Linked DNA regions of Homo sapiens: region 1 is linked to region 2. Evidence: fine-mapped expression QTL. A gene starts in region 2. The other region holds a variant in brackets. All regions are shown on one strand. Distances are between the middles of the regions. Region 1 has its middle 57 kb from the start of MTF2. Region 2 holds the start of MTF2 (metal response element binding transcription factor 2).

What was found. PIP is the estimated chance that this variant, and not a neighbour inherited with it, causes the effect. A credible set is the group of variants that fine-mapping cannot tell apart.
Region 1: its variant is the best candidate, but not a certain one, in a credible set for the expression of MTF2 in whole blood (INTERVAL, PIP 0.63).

Annotation. Positions count from the first base shown.
Region 1 is chr1:93,019,094-93,024,602 of GRCh38, forward strand. No RefSeq gene overlaps it. Among named protein-coding and RNA genes, the nearest start is that of MTF2, 57 kb to the right of the region's middle. RefSeq lists a silencer at 2,519-2,813. The variant C/T (reference allele first, on the strand shown) is at 3,186.
Region 2 is chr1:93,077,081-93,082,306 of GRCh38, forward strand. MTF2 (metal response element binding transcription factor 2) reads left to right here and starts at 2,203. Exons shown (of 15, transcript NM_007358.4): 1 at 2,203-2,451. The coding sequence starts at 2,447. RefSeq lists enhancers at 1,766-2,015, 1,952-2,246.

The sequences.
Region 1 (5,509 bases), 58 kb before region 2:
ACCAAATACCATATGTTCTCACTTATAAGTGGAAGCTAAGCTATGGATGTGCAAAGGCATATAGACTGGTATAATGGACACTGGAGACTCAGAAGCGAGGGATGGTGGAAGGAGGGTGGGGAGAAAAAATTACCTGTTGGGTACACTACACACAGATATACTAAAAGCCCAGATTTCACCACTGTACAATGTATCTATGTAACCAAAAACCACTTTTACCTCTAAAGCTACTGAAATAAAAACAAATTAAAAAAATAATGCTGCTTTAGTTGATAAAGTTGTTTCATTTGGGGGCATGGGTTAACAATTCTGATACTGCTACACATGTGTACTGGAACTAAATGATTGAGTAAATAGATGGCAGATTGTAGGAACCAGGTTTCTCACTGCTGGAGTGGGAATTTACAGATAAGCAAGGAGAAAAAGCTAGAATGATCCATATATTAATGGATTAAAGTTAGACACATCAGTAAGAACTCATATTTAGTTTAATTTGGATATAGATTGTTTTTTTAAGAGACAGGGTCTTGTTCTATTGCCCAGGCTGGAGCGCAATGGTGTGATCATAGCTCACTGCAGCCTTGAACTCTTGGGCTCAAGCAATGCTCTCACCTTAGCCTGTTGAACAGCTGGGACTACAGGCATGCACCACTACATCCAGGTAAATTATTTTTAATTTTTTAGAGTTGAGTCTCTCTATGTTGCCCAGGCTGGTCTCAAACTCCTGACCTCAAGAGATCTTCCCGCCTCAACCTTCTCAGTAGCTGGAATTCTGGGCATGAGCCACTGCACCCGACCTATATAAAAATATTTATAGATAGATGTATATACACTGGTTAGTATCCACACAATTATTTATTTGATCTGTTAGCAGAGAAGTCCTAAAAGACCTAGCATATTCTCTAGTACACAGACACCTACCATCCAGATCTCGGTTCCTAATACCATTATCTAACAAAAGGAACTAAGGGTTTTTTTGGAGACATGACTGATTCTAGAACTGGGGAAGGAAAGACACAAGATGTACCTGGAGCATGTTGCAGTGCCGAAAAGTAAGGAAGTGCTAGAAAAAAAAAATCATGTTGTTGGATTATGTCAAAGGGGCATAAGAGCCAACTGAAAGAGTTCCCGGTGACCAAAGGGGAAACAATTTGAGCAAAAAAAAATAAAATAAAAGTAATACTGAATTATAACCTAAAGTATAAAACAAGTATGCATGAGTTAACAATGTTATAAATACATAATTGAATAAATTAATAAGTGGGAGGAAGAGACAAATTGTCCATACAGAAGAATTGCAAGTGATTTATGTAGATACTCTGCCACCCTCCAAAAAGGGAGCATACATCCACTTCTTATGTGTGGGCAGCACATGGTGACTTCCCTCCAAAGATTATGGAAAGAGAGGAAAAAGAGTAACTTTACAGTGGAGAAACTTGGCAAAAACCACTTCAGCCAGTGTCATAAATCATGATGACTGTATATCCAGGGATACGATGTGATGAAAATGGCACTTTGCCTCTATGATCTTCCTCCTGTGGCCTCATAACCCCAATCTAAGACAAGAAAAACATCAAATTCCAATTGGAGAACATGCTCCAAGACACTTGACCAGTACTCCTCAAAGCTCAATTTTTCTGTAAATCTAAAACCGTTCTAGAAAATAAAATCTGACCAGGCATGGTGGCACACACCTGTAATCCCAGCACTTTGGGAGGCTGAGGTGGGAGGACTGCTTGAGGCCAAGAGTCGAGACCAGCATGGTCAACACGGTGAGACCCTATCTCTATAAAAAATTTTTTTTAATAAAAAGAAAAGAAAATCTATTTTTTAAAAATTTACTGACACATAGTTGTTATTATTGTTATTATTATTATTATTACTTTGAAACAGAGTCTGGCTCTGTCACCCAGGCTGCAGTGCAGTGTTGCAATCTCAGCTCATTTCTACCTCTGCCTCCTGGGCTCAAGCCATCCTTCCACCTCAGCCTCCAGGGTAGCTGGGACTAGAGGTGCACACTACCAAACCTGGCTAATTTTAGTACTTTTTTTCGTAGAGATAGAGTTTCACCATGTTGCCCAGGCTGGTGGCAAACCCCTGGGCTCAAGAGATTCTCCCACCTCGGCCTCCCAAGGTGCTAGGTAGGATTACAGGCGTGAGCCACAGCACCCGGCCAATTGCTCATCAGTAAATGACCCAAGGCCCAGAGAAGTTAAATAATTTCCCCAAGTTAGCAAAAGTGTAAATTATAATCAGTATAACCTAAATATAAGAATGATCTTTATTGTGATTTGTTCTAATTTACTTAGCAAACATTTATATTATGCTTACTATGTGAGATGCACTATTCTAATTGCTTTTCAAGTATTCTCTCAGTTAATCCTCATTATAATGTCATAAAGAAAGTACTACTATTATTCCCACTTTGCAGACAGAGAACATTTGCCCAAGCTCAAATAGCTAGTAAGTGGCAAAGCTGATGTTTGGATTGAGGCAGTCTAGCTCAGAGATTATGTGCTTGACCACTACACTACTCAGCCTCTCTTATTCAAAGAAAACTTTGAAAAGTCAATTTAAATTAAAGTTTTCTTCACCGTTTTTTGGCATCAAAAATTGTTACAGAACATTAAGTGCAGACAGACAGTTACTATGACTTGCCACTAGGAGGTGTCAAAACTTACAAATCTGTCTAATGACCGTATTTCAAAGGGAGTAAAGGACAGTTTCTCATCTACATTGCCATTAACCTGTTTCCGTTTGCTAGCCCATGAATAAAAAGAAAAACACACAAATGAAATGAGTTCAGAGGTGTTTGAATTTCGTAAAGTGTTTCACTTGTCTTTTTTTTCACCTTTATTATACATGGCCTTCCATATTATACAATTTAACACTTCATTATATACTGTTTTGTTTTCAAGTTGTTTCATTTGTCTTGTGCCCACACTAACATGTAAAGTTTTTGTTAGCAGGGAACATGGCTTATATTAAACTTATTATTTTTAAAAATTGTATAGCACCTAGCATAGTGTTAGGTACTTTATAAACACTTGCTAATCAGTTAAAATGCATAAATACCTTAATTTACATAATAAACGTGTTTTGGGGCTGGCATAAGTGAACTTAAAAATTCACTAGAGGTGCTAGATATTTAAGGGAATCCAATAATGAATCCTTTTTAATTAGAT[C/T]AAGAAGAACTCTGTAATTTAGCCTCGTGTAAATCTCTATTTTCATATACGGTTCGGCTTAAAGCAGGAAGTACCTGGGTATGCATCATTGGTTGAATAAAAATTTATTTCTGTATCTTGTACAGGTTTAAGAAAGACTTACTTGAATTCTGCCTTTTCTCCTTTCTGATGCTGATGGCAACAAACTGGGGTAGATCAAGTGGTTAAGATGCTGTCTGAAGAGGCCATGACTTGAGATCCCGGTCCTGCCCTGCCTCACTCACTGGCTGAGCAATCCACTTGAGCTTTCTGGGACTCAGTGTCCTCATGTATAAAAAGAGGGAGTTGAATGAGATGAGCTCTTTCAAACTCAACATTCACTTTCCCAGGTAAGGGGGCAGGCAGACAGTAGAAGAGCCTTCACAGATTCTCCCACCAGAATACCACACTTACAGTACTTGTATTCTTTATCTTAGATGCCATTGACATTGCGATAGTGTGTAATGATATAGTCATTGTCCATAAAATATTTAATATTTCCTTTATCCTCCCTGTCATCCAGGACACTATACAAATATAAGGGCAGGTAACAACCTTCTGTTCCAGTTTCAAAGACAAGTATGCTAAGAGACTGGTAGAAGATATGACAGTTGTTGAAACTTTTATTTCTCTCCAAGGCTAACTTAAAGAAAACCCTATGGCTGGGCAAGGTGGCTCACACCTGTAATTCCAGTACTTTGGGAAGCTGAGGTGGGAGGATCACTTGAGCCCAGGAGTTCAAGGCCAGCCTGGGCAACATAGTGAGACCCTGTCTCTACAAAAAAGTAAAAAATTAGCCAGGTGTGGTGGCACACATCTGTAGTCCCAGCTATTTGGGAGGCTGAGGCAGGAGGATTGCTTGAGCCCTGGAGGTTGAGGCTGCAGTGAGCAATGGTTGTGCCACTGCACTCTAGCCTGGCTGAGAGAGCAAGACCCTGTCTCAAAAAATAAAAAATAAAAATAAAATAAAAAAGAAAACCCTCAGATGTTAATTTTTTCCAACAAATAATTATAAACATTCCAAAAGTATAAGATTATTCTGATATTTAATTTTCTACCAAGGGACACTATGGTTCATTTAACTTTAGAATCTATTATTGGCAGAGGTTTAGGGGCCATCTGAGAGGGGTTTATGAGCTGTAAATTGAGTGCACTGAGAGCAATTAAGCATTTAAATTGGAGCGATGTGTAAATTTAACAGCTGGTAGGTGTTGTCAATTGCAAGCTACAGACCACCGGCTTGGCAGAAATCTGCATACAAACTGAAGAAAATCGATGGAATGGTGAAAAGTAGAACCTGGATTTGGTAATTTGGAGCAAACTTCAGATTGCACATACAGCTGAGAACATTTAAGATTAATCTAGAGGTATGGCATCTCCTCTAGGAATGCTTCACTGGACAAAGATTTGTTAAGCTATTTAAAATGTGCTTAAATTACAAGTTAATTACTCTCCCAGTTAATAGCTTGGGATTGTTACAAGAGAATCTGACCTTGAAGGCCAATGTGTATTTATCTCATAATCTTTGTGTGTGTGTGTGTGTGTGTGTGTGTGTGTGTGCTAAAAACAATGGTTGTTGAAGACTTAGAAGCTTCTATTTATGTGCATGGTATTTATAGAATTTATTAAAGCAGTGACTTTTACCATGTTCCCAGGATCCTCCTTAAGGGTTGCCACAAGGGCAAAAGAGAAAAAAACAGGGAGTTTCTGACATACTGATCTTCCAGCTTCCCATCATTGACCAACTTCTTAGTTAAGTAGATGTTTTAAATTCTCAGTAATAAGGCACCGATAATTGTTGAAGAGGAAAAAGATCAGGGGATTTGGATTAAACTTGGTCTGACCTATACTTTCTACTCCTCTTTTTCATATCAAAATCCACCCTTCCAGATCTGTCACTTTTTGAGTTGTTGGGTGTTTTTGTTTTACTTTTTTTTTTTTGAGACACTCACTCTGTCACCCAGGCTGGAGTGCAGTGTCACAATCTGGGCTCACTGCAATCTCCGCCTCTTGGGTTCAAGTGATCCTCGTGCCTCAGCCTCCCGAGTAGCTGAGATTATAGGCGTCACCACCATGCCTGGCTAATTTTTGTGTTTTTAGTAGAGACGAAGTTTTGCCATGCTGGCCAGGCTGGTCACAAACTCCTGGCCTCAGGTGATTACAAGTGTGTGCCACTGTGCCTAGCCTGCTTTCTGAGTTTTTTAAGGTAGCAGATTAAGTAACTTCTGATAAACCGAGGGGCATACATCACCTCAGGAAGCCTTATTTGTTCTACTAATTTTATTTATTTATTTTTTGAGACAGAG
Region 2 (5,226 bases):
CTACAGCAGGTTTTTTTTTTTTTTTTTTTTTTTTTTGAGGCAGTCTCACTGTGGCTCAAGTAAGCCTACCACCTCAGCCTCCTGAATAGCTGGGACTACAGGCAGGGGCCCAGCTAATTTTTAAATTTTTTGTAGAGACAGGGTCTCACTATGTGGCTCAGACTGCATACTGGTCTGGAACTCCCCAGCTCAAGTGATCCTTCTACCTTGGCCTTTCAAAGTACTGGGATTACAGGAGTGAGTTGCTGGTGGCTGGCTGACAGGTATTCTTTATACTTGACTGTGACTCCCTGAGTGTCCTTAAATCTCTGAACACTTGGTTTGCTTACACCTTTGTACTCACACGTTTGCACAGAAAAATAACACTTTTTTTTGATAGAGGCATAATTTACTTCTCTAATGTATAAGGGATTAGAATACTTTTGTGTAGCCAAAGAGCCTAAATTATTAGAGTTTCTGAGGTGGAAATGAATGCGTCTGAAGTATTGAATCACTGAAGATTTTGAAGTTGAGGCTTGGTGACCACTTTACAGAAATGTTGAGGAAAACTTAGACCAAACGTTCTCCAAAACAGATGTTCTCTGATTAGGCTTAGCTGCACAGCAAATATATCTGTTTGTGCAATATCTTTATTAATTTTTGTACTGCATCTACTTTTTAATATTTTATTTATTTATTTACCTTAATGCCACGTTCCTGAATGGGAATGCATCTACTTTTTTTTTTTTTTTTTTGAGATGGAGTTTTTGCTCTTGTTGCCTAGGCTGGAGTGCAATGGCACGATCTTGGCTCACCACAACCTCTGCCTCCTGGGTTCAAGCGATTCTCCTGTCTCAGCCTCCCGAGTAGCTGGGATTACAGGCATGTGCCACCACACCTGGCTAATTTTTGTATTTTTAGTAGAGACGGGGTTTCTCCAAGTTGATCAGGTTGGTCTCGAATTCCCGACCTCAGGTGATCTGCCTGTCTCGGCCTCCCAAAGTGCTGGAATTACAGGTGTGAGCCACCGCGCCCGGCTGCATCTGCTTTTTTTAAGTCAAAATTTTCCTCAGCCAACGTATGAAGGTCACTTAAGACGAATTTATGAGAGACGATGATGAGAATTGAAATAAAGTGAAACCTGAAAGGTAGTAGGTAAGTAGATACAGTGAGGGTACAGTAAGAAGACAGACTTAAAAGATTAGGACTATTATTCAGGAGAAGCAGAGGAGTGGAAGGGTATGACCACAATATTTAAAGTATTGAATGGTATTGGATAAAACGAATATGCTTATTTGCCAAATTCTGAGATCACAGGCTGAGGGAACCCCTTTTGAAGTATGAGCCAAATGAGCTTAGACCACAAAAGGTACTTTTTCAGAGACAGAAAAAATATGGTGTTCACTATCCCTGTGGCATAATATGGGACAAAAATATAAAATGGCTTTAAAAATATTTTGACGAAATTATAAATAAAGATTCCACACGTGGCTACTAAGAGGAGCTGGGTTGTATCTAGGTGTAAGTTAAAGAGACAAGCATACAATCTCACAGCTTGTCAGTTGGGACCCCTGTAGGCAGCAGAATCTGGGCAGGCTAAGGGTCTGCACTAATAAACAATTCTGTTTTCTTAAACCATTTTGCAGGGGACTATTCTCAGATTTCATTACAACTAGGAAGGACTGCAAAGCGGGTAAACAGAAAACAACCTTTCATCGTTAGGAAAAAAATCGTCTGAAAGTCTTTCATAAAAGCAGCTCCTGATAAGGAGTTTGGGACTGGACAGTGAATCGCTGAATAAAATTTAATCTCGACATCCTGGGTCTTCTCCCCTCTGAAGGAAATTCTAACAGCAGGCCTTAGGATGAAAGTAGAGGAAACGTGCTTCAGTTAAGGTTTTCTCCAGGGAAAAGAAATCGGCCCAGCAAGATGCACAGAGCACCGTTACGACCACGCACACCGAAGGTCGCACACGACCCTTTTCCTGTATAACAGTGCCAGCCTGCCGACGATCAGGAGCGCAGCTTTCACTATTGTGTTAGCCCCGGCGGCGGAAGGACTGAGCCTCACTGCAACGTTAAAGAGTCCTTCTTTGTTCAGCCCCAGTCGGGGACGCAGGGCGCGGTGTTCCTCCGCGCTCGCCGCGCAGTCCCTGCCCCCCCGCGGCTTTGGAGAGCTGCCATTCGGCACCGGAGTCGCTCCGCGCTCCCAGAATGCACCGGCAGTCCGCGGGAAACCAAAATGGCGAGGGGCTGTATTGAAGTGGGCTGTGTTTGAGGCCGGTGTAAGAACGCTCATTCTACCCCCAACCCTTGTCTCCAAGGACCTCGGTTTGTGCGTGCATATGTGCCGGGTACCCGGTGGGGCGGGTGCCCAGTAAGTGCTCGGACTCGCAGGGGAAGCGCCCACGGGGACGGATTGGTTGTTTTTTCCTGTATGAAGCGGTTGGCACCACTGAAGTGACCGAATGAGGTGAGAGACCTTGGCCTGGGAACCGACTCTTCCGGAGGAGATGGGGGTTGGGGGAAGGAGGAAGAAAGGAAGCAAGTATAAAAGGGAAAGATGGAGGACCAAGGTGGGGGTGGGGGCTCCTGTATGTGGGTGCCTTTGCATTTATGTGTATATTGAAAAGAATGGATGAAGAGGAGTAGTCAGTTGAGTGTTGGGAGAAAATAGGGACTAAAGGAGCGAGGAGGTCGTTGGGGGAGTCTGTTGGAGGAACAAGATGAAACGTTGAGACGGGGAAGCTGTGTTTGGAGGGCAGGAAGGAACCTGGGGGCGGGAGACGGTTGGAGGGGCAGGATGAACCTGGTGACGAGGGGGTGGGGAGCCGAGAGGAGGAGCCGTTGGGAAATGGGGGCTGAGGGAAATGTGGGGAGCAGAGTGGAGGGCTGCCTGGGACCTTAGCAGTGCGCAAAGGGAAGTAGCAGCTTGGAATCGGAGGGTGGAATTGTATGGAATTGGAGTAAAGGGGGTCGAGTGTAAGTGCTGGTAAGGATAAGGGGAACACACTGAAGTGGAGGTTGGAAGCACAACCTGAAAGCTTAAAGGGAAGCGGTGGGAGGGAAAGTGAGATGGGGGAAAGCTAGGTAGCTTATATTTGGAGCTCACCAAAAATATGAGGCTTTTCTTGTGTTTAATTAAACCTAACTCATATAATCTACGTCTAGGATGTAGATTTGTATTGTATTCATTTTTACAACTGAGGTAATTACGGCTCAAGGAATTTTAACCAATTTGCCAAGATTTCTTAACATATTTCGGTAGTGCCAGAACTCTAACTCTGTGTTTTACAATCTGGTGTCCTTGGTTGCTAGAATTTTTCTTTGGAAGCAATTAGAGGGAACAGATGGATTTATCGGGGTAATCTGACTAACAGCAAGGGTTTGTGAACAATGGGAAAAGGCTTATGGAATGTTACTCTATTCTTTAAAACATTTAACTTTGGTTAAAGATAGAAACCATGTAACACTAACTTAAATGTGAAAACCTAGCTAGGCCTGTGTGTAATACATAGGAAGGCACCATGTGAGGTCAGTACAGAGCTAGAAATATGTAAATAGTACCTGATTTAATTTGACTTCAGAACCTCCGGTAGTAATAGTAGTTACTTTCTCCTTCAGATGGATTCCATGTGACCCTCCTGTATACCTAGCCTACAAGCTGGTTTCAATTTCCATGGTTTCATTCTCTCTTGGGAATTCCTTTTTTTTTTTTTTTTGTCAGTAAATTTCAAAGATAGTTGTATGTAGAAGTAGTTAATGTGGATAAAATGTAATTAAATTCACAATAACCTTTTTAAGATTTGAAAATGCTTTAAAGGGAGTTGTTTTGACTGATGGCTTTAAGTGCCCTATAGTTTAGTTATAACTTGAGAGGGAATACAAAATGACTTGTTTTTTCAGATTCCTAAATATAAAAATGTATTTGAATTCACATTTTAAAATTAGTTCACCTGCAGTTTTTTAAAGTGCTAAAAATGTTCTAAATATTTGAATTAAGAACACACCTGCTTCCTGATACTACATTTATAATGTTAGTGGGTATTAACGGAAATGTGTAACTATCAGGATGAAATGCATACACAGTTTTAGAACTAGTTGTACAGAAATCATCTTGTTAAGCCTTTTTTCTAGATGACACAATTATATTTAATAGTTCTTTAAATCATCCCCGTTGCCTCAAAGCTCTGTTAGGAAAGACATTCTGTGTATTTTACTGTGGGTCATTAACTCTTTGATTTCATGGATTATAAATATTCCTTTTTGTGGGATCTTTGAAGGATAATTTGCTTTAATCATTTTTCAGCATAATCTTTACATCTGACTTGAGGAAACTGACAGTATATTGTTAATCTATATTTTAACAGAGAAATTTGCCTCTGAGGAGTTGCCATGACCAACATCTGTAGCTTGATGGTTCTGAAAGTAAAACTTAACTGCTGTTTTAGTTAGTCGACACTTCCATGAACGATCTTTGATGGTTAATATTTTTGTACTTTGTTTTCCCTGTTCTTCAGGAAAATTTGTTTATTGCTGTGAAATCCAGTATAACCATCCTAAATTGGAATGTAAAAGTTTCCCTGTGGATATTTCTTATATGTTAGAGTAGTGCTATCTAGTAGAAATTTCTCCAGTGATGGCAGTGTTCTATATCTGCTGTATCCAGTACAGTAGCCACTAGCTGCATGTGGGTATTGAACTCTAGAAATGTAACTAGTGAGACTAAGAAGTGAATTTATAATTTAATTCATTAAAACTAAAATTTAAATGGCCATATGTAGCAGTGCTACTGTATTGGACAGCACAGTAGTAGGGGTTATTGCATCCATGTATTGAGGAATTGTTACATTCATTAACCATGGAAACCACAGGAATCCAAGGATGAGGAAATGCCTGAGAACTGAGGAAGTTCAGATTCTTTTTGTACATTTAAGATGAAGTATTCATTTTTACCACATACCATGTCTTCTGTCATATTTCTGTTTTCATATAACATTGCAATAGAATAATGAAAGATAGTGACCTCTCTAGTCTTTTTAAAATATAAGATTCTGCTTCTGTGTCAAAAAACAACAAAAAATGGATATTAGGAACGTTTTGTTGTTTAAAAAAATTACTTTGTTTTTACACTTTGGTAGAAAAAACTTAAGGAATATTTCAAACATAATACAAAGTGAGCAGAATAGAATAGTGAGCTTTTATGTAACCATTCTTTTTTTTTTTTTTTTCTGTAAAAAGAGACAAG